2 separate regions of the Homo sapiens genome follow, and region 1 is linked to region 2. The links come from fine-mapping of genetic effects on gene expression. A gene starts in region 2. The other region holds a variant in brackets. All regions are shown on one strand. Distances are from middle to middle.

Evidence for each region. PIP is the estimated chance that this variant, and not a neighbour inherited with it, causes the effect.
Region 1: its variant is fine-mapped to the expression of PTPN12 in subcutaneous fat (TwinsUK, PIP 0.95).

The regions. Positions count from the first base shown.
Region 1 is chr7:77,506,573-77,509,475 of GRCh38, reverse strand. No RefSeq gene overlaps it. Among named protein-coding and RNA genes, the nearest start is that of PTPN12, 29 kb to the left of the region's middle. RefSeq lists an enhancer at 1-790. The variant CA/A (reference allele first, on the strand shown) is at 1,747.
Region 2 is chr7:77,535,724-77,538,626 of GRCh38, reverse strand. PTPN12 (protein tyrosine phosphatase non-receptor type 12) reads right to left here and starts at 1,332. Exons shown (of 18, transcript NM_002835.4): 1 at 982-1,332. The coding sequence starts at 1,080. It overlaps LOC124901681 (a long non-coding RNA gene), which reads left to right and starts at 1,678. Exons shown (of 3, transcript XR_007060395.1): 1 at 1,678-2,256; 2 at 2,346-2,903. RefSeq lists silencers at 793-842, 983-1,192, 1,443-1,742 and enhancers at 1,813-2,032, 2,203-2,252.

The DNA of each region.
Region 1 (2,903 bases), 29 kb after region 2:
CCTCACCTCCCGGACGGGGCGGCTGGCCGGGCAGGGGGCTGACCCCCCCACCTCCCTCCCGGACGGCACGGCTGGCCAGGCGGGGGGCTGACCCCCCCACCTCCCTCCCGGATGGCACGGCTGGCCGGGCGGGGGCTGACCCCCCACCTCCCTCCCGGATGGGGCAGCTGGCCGGGCGGGGGGCTGACCCCCCCCACCTCCCTCCCGGACAGGGTGGCTGCCGGGCGGAGAGGCTCCTCACCTCCCAGACGGGGCGGCTGCCGGGCAGAGGGGCTCCTCACTTTTCAGACGGGGTGGTTGCCAGGCAGAGGGTCTCCTCACTTCTCAGACGGGGCGGCCGGGCAGAGACGCTCCTCACCTCCCAGACGGGGTCTCGGCCGGGCAGAGGCGCTCCTCACATCCCAGATGGGGCGGCGGGGCAGAGGCGCTCCCCACATCTCAGACGATGGGCGGCCGGGCAGAGACGCTCCTCACTTCCTAGATGTGATGGCGGCTGGGAAGAGGCGCTCCTCACTTCCTAGATGGGATGGCGGCCGGGCGGAGACGCTCCTCACTTTCCAGACTGGGCAGCCAGGCAGAGGGGCTCCTCACATCCCAGACGATGGGCGGCCAGGCAGAGACACTCCTCACTTCCCAGACGGGGTGGCGGCCGGGCAGAGGCTGCAATCTCGGCACTCTGGGAGGCCAAGGCAGGCGGCTGGGAGGTGTAGGTTGTAGTGAGCCGAGACCACGCCACTGCACTCCAGCCTGGGCACCATTGAGCACTGAGTGAACGAGACTCCCTCTGCAATCCCGGCACCTCGGGAGGCCAAGGCGGGCGGATCACTCGCGGTTAGGGGCTGGAGACCGGCCCGGCCAACACAGCGAAACCCCGTCTCCACCAAAACCAGTCAGGCGTGGCGGCGCGTGCCTGCAATCACAGGCACTCGGCAGGATCTTCTATCTGTCCAAACTGGGACCGAGTCCTCGGCCTCGGAGGCTCCACGCTCCCTCTCTCACAGCCCGCACCTCGGCGGTCTCTCGGAGGAGGGAGGAACCCGAGGTACCTGGTAGTCGTAGCTGAGGAACTTACAGGCTTGTTGACCATCTCACCATGGAAACTCGACCATTTTTTAATGGGGTTGTTTTTTTGTTTTGTTTTTGTTTTTGTTTTGAGACGGAGTCTCACTCTGTCGCCCAGGCTGGAGTGCAGTGGCGTGATCTCAGCTCATTGCAAGCTCCGCCTCCCAGGCTCACGCCATTCTCCTGCCTCAGCCTCCTGAGTAGCTGGGACTACAGGTGCCCGCCACCACGCCTGGCTAATTTTTTGTATTTTTAGTAGAGACGGGGTTTCACCAATGTTAGCCAGGATGGTCTTGATCTCCTGACCTCGTGATCCGCCTGCCTCAGCCTCCCAAAGTGCTGGGATTACAGGCGTGAGCCACTGTGCCTGGCCAGGGTTGATATTTTGTTTTTTTGTTTGAGATGGAGTCTTGCTCTTGTCACCCAGGCTGGAGTGCAGTGGTGTGATCTCTGCTCACTGCAACCTCTGCCTCCTGGGTTCAAGTGATTCTCCTGCCTCAGCCTCACGAGTAGCTGGGATTACAGGCACCTGCCACCATGCCTGGCTGAGTTTTCGATCTTTTGTAGAGACGGGGTTTCACCATGTTGGCCAGGCTAGTCTCAAACTTCTGACCTTAGGTAATTCGCCCATCTTGGCCTTTTCATTCTGTTTTGTAGAATGGAGCCTAACCCCGCCCCCCCCCC[CA/A]AATAAAAATAAAACAAATTTTCAATTACAATGAGCAATGCACAAAGATATTGAGGTACATAAGGAAGTCTGGCCCTGTAAGCAAGATTCAAAGGAAACAGCAGATATTAGAAACAGATCCACAGACTATAAAACAACTATGTATGTCTGTAATTAAAAAAATAAAAAGACAACTTGAAAATATCTTCAGGTAACAGAAAACTATCAAGGGATATAGCATATTGAAAACAGACATTTTGACCAAATTGAGTAAATTTAACTAGTTTGTTTTTTCTCATGTTTAAACTTATTAATTAAATTAATTATTTTAGTCTTTCTAGTGTCATGTTTTAAAACCTAAATCAATGTACTATGGCCAAAAGTGTTAATCTCAACAGCCGTGGAGAATATAAGTGTCATTACTGTTATTATCATCATATATTAGAAAAGTCACAGTATCTCAGCAAATAGTCATCATCAAGTCATAGTATTTTACTTACAATGATACAGATTCATGATGTCCTTCCATTTGTACAAAGGTAATTAGTTCTGACTCTTAAGTCATTTATCTGACAATCTGTCCAGCTTAAAGATATGAAACCAACCTTAAACCCACTGAAAAAAGAACTTACCACTAGATTCCTGTATCAGTCAGGAATAGCTTCAGCTGTGAGTAAAAAAAAAAAAAAAAAAAAAAACAAAAAACAATGGCTTAGTCTAGAGCTGAGGTGGCCTGGTACTCTTGTAGCTTCCATTCCCAAGGTCACCTCTTGTTTCAGCTGGGCTACTCCAGCCATCACAACCATATTCCAGTCTGTCTGAAGGAAGAAAAGAATAATCGGGGGCAAAGGACCCATCAGCTCTCTTATAAAGACGGTTTCCATGAACTGCCATACTTTGCTTACCTATAAGAAAGAGAAAAGCATGGCCAGGTACAGTGGCTCACCATGCTTATCCCAGCACTTTGGGAAGCCAAGGTGACTGGATCACTTGAACCCAGAAGTTCAAGGCCAGCCTGGGTAACATAGTGAAACCTTGTCTCTACAAAAAATATAAAAATTAGCCGGGTGTAGTGGCACACACCTGTAGTCCCAGCTACTAGGGAGGCTGAAGTATGAGGATCACTTGAGCCCAGGAGGTCGAGGCTGCAGTGAGCTGTGAGTGTGCCACTGCACTC
Region 2 (2,903 bases):
AATTTCATGAACAAGACTTTTAACCTTCACCTCCTCTCAAGACTGCCTGCACAAGCAGAGGGCGGAAAGTAGGGGGTGGCGGAGGCGGGGGGGCGCTGGGAAGGTTATCTCCCAGTTCAGGGCTTCGGCCCGTAGCGTCGCCTCCGCCCCACCAGGACTATTGTTCCCAAGTTCCCCACCCCCACCCCGGATAGGAAGTGATAGTCACATCCCCTCCGCCTTCGGCAATATCCCCTGGGGAGTCCGAAGTCGGCTGGCTTCCTTCAGGATAATTCCCCCACCCACACTTATCCCCTGAACCTATAGTCACACGGACCCCAAGACCACCTCAAACCTGGGCCTCAGGAGAGGAGAAGCGGGACGCGGGTAAATGGAAATTAGGTAAACCCATGAGATTCCTTATGGGCAATCCTTTCCCAAGCGTTGGAGATCATGACTGCGACCCCAGAAACGGCCTAAGTCCTACCCTGCCCGCTTTGAGACCAGCTAGAGCAAAGGGATCCCAGGAGTTAGTGCCAACCTCAATACCCCCGTTCCTCTGTCAGCCACGATCTGCACTCCTCCCGGTCACAGCCAGATACCTTGCCTCGACCCTCCTGGGAGGAGCGAACTGCGCGGGGAGGTGTGGAAACGCGAGCCCCCCCCCCCGGCCTGCACCTCACTTGCCTACGGCTCCCGGCCCGGTAAACAATAGGTGGTCGCGAGCCACGGTGCAGGCTGCGGGCTCGGCCGCGCGGCCGCTCCCTTCGCGTCCCGGGAACCCGCGCGGGGGTCGCGAACATGGGAGAAGAAAGGAGGCCACGGGGGGAGGCGCTCTCGCCTCCCGCTGGCCTCCGAGACCACCCGGCTCACCCGGCTGGTGCGCGCCCCCTCCGCCCCTCTCCTCACAGAGGTACACAAAGCACTGGCGGCCCGGCCGGGAGAGGCGGCGATGGGCTCCGGCGCCGGCAAGAAAACGCGACAGCGAGGGGAGAGACTCACCATGAAGTCCCGGGCGAAGTTGTCCTCCCCATTGTGGTCAGGACTCTTCATGGCCTGGACCCTCTGGATGAATTTCCTCAGGATCTCCACTTGCTCCATCCTCCCGCGTCCCCCCGGCTGCGGTCGCTGGCCCCCCCGCCGCCCGCCCGCCCGGCACAGAGCCCGCTCCGTCTTCCCCAGCTCGTTCCCCCAGCACGTCCCTCCCTCCCGACCCCGCCAAGCCCCGCGGCTCCCTCCTCCTCCCCACCGCCCTAGGCGGCGGCTGCGGCGGCACCGGCTGGGCTCCCGACACCACAACTTCCAGGAGCAGCCGCCGCTCTCCCACAGTACCAGGCGAGCCGCTGCGCTAGCGCCAACCCCAACCCCCAGCTTGCTCCATCCTCCTTCCCCGCCCTCCTCCTCCGTCGGAGACGCCGCCGCCGCCGCCGCCGCCGCCGCCGCCTCAGGAACACAGCTAGCTCTCCGCTCGCCCTGCCCCCCCTTCCCGGTTCCTCCTCCCCCCCACCCCCCGCCAGCAGCCGCAGCCGCAGCCGCAGCCGCCTCTCCCCACGGGCGCGTCCCCGCCGCCACCCAGATGCGCGGCCTCGCGCTGCGGCTCCGCCCCAAGCGCTGCGCCCGCAGATGCATCCCCGCCCGCCTCCCGGCCACGCCCCCAAGCCCGCCCCGCCGGCCCCAGCCCCGCTTGGAGTGGCTGGAAGGCACTTCAGCGGGCGGCCTGGAGACCTGACTCCATTTCCGGGGCGTGGCCCCGCCCGGGGTGCTCAGAGGTCGGAGTATCGCTGGGAGGAGAGTTGGTTCATTTGGAGGAGGGAATGCGACTCTGAGCGGGCCAAGCCCTAGTGGGTCAGAGTAGGATTCTGATGGAATTTGCGGTCTCACCGCCTACTAGGGAGGAAAAGCAGTTTTCAGGAGTCCCGCACCGCCGCCAGCCGTGGGCTGGGACTACAAGTCACGGTCTGTGGAGTCCAGGAGTGGGGGCGGGCGGGAGGCAGGCTGGGAGCTGTAGTAGTGTCACCGCCACGTTCGCAGCAGGTAGATGCTCATCTTGCTAACGGATTGGTGAGAGTGGACAGCAATTAGGCTTTGGCACCTTGGAGCGTGGCTCCAGCTAAGGGAAGCGAAACGCTTCCTGGGTGAGAGGACTTTTATTCTTTGCTCATCCTCTTAAACCTGGCGAGTGAGCGCCTGAGGTTCGGAGTGCCTTCTTCACAGACGACGCGAATGTGGGGTCTTCGTGTTTGCCGAACTGAAGGGAATTTGCCTTCCTGCCTTTAGGTTCGCAGCAGTTCATAACTGAATAAGAGACTTTCCTCCATAGAATGGACTTTATAAATCTATTAATTTTTTTTTTTTTTTTTTTTTAGAGCTAAGGTCTTGCTCTATCTCCCATGCCAAAGTGCAGTGCTATGATCACGGCTCGCTGCAGCCTTGAACTCCTGGGCTCAAGGCATCCTCCTGCCTCACTACGTCACCAAGCCCAGCTAATACATTTTAAAAATTTATTATTTATTTATTTATTTATTTTTGGTAGAGAAGGGGGTCTCACCAGGTTGCCCAGGCTGATCTCGAATTCCTGTGCACTAGGGATCCTCAGCTTCCGAAAGTGTTGGGATTTTAGGCGTGAGCCACCGCGCCTAGCCTATAAATCTTTATTCATCTTTGTAAACTTCTATCAGAGAATATATTCTGGTCTAACTCATCATTTTACAAATAAAGCGACTTCCTGACATCCCCCAGCGTATTCTTAGCAGAGCCGTAACTAGAAGTTATTTTACTTTCACAACAGTGGCCTCTCACAATGTGACAGAACTGAAGGATTTGATCCATGAACTGACTTTCGTCATTTATACCCACAAACCTTTTTTTACAGAGCAGATTGGTCAGCGAATTTGGTTATAATAGGAAATATCAGTGGTAGAATA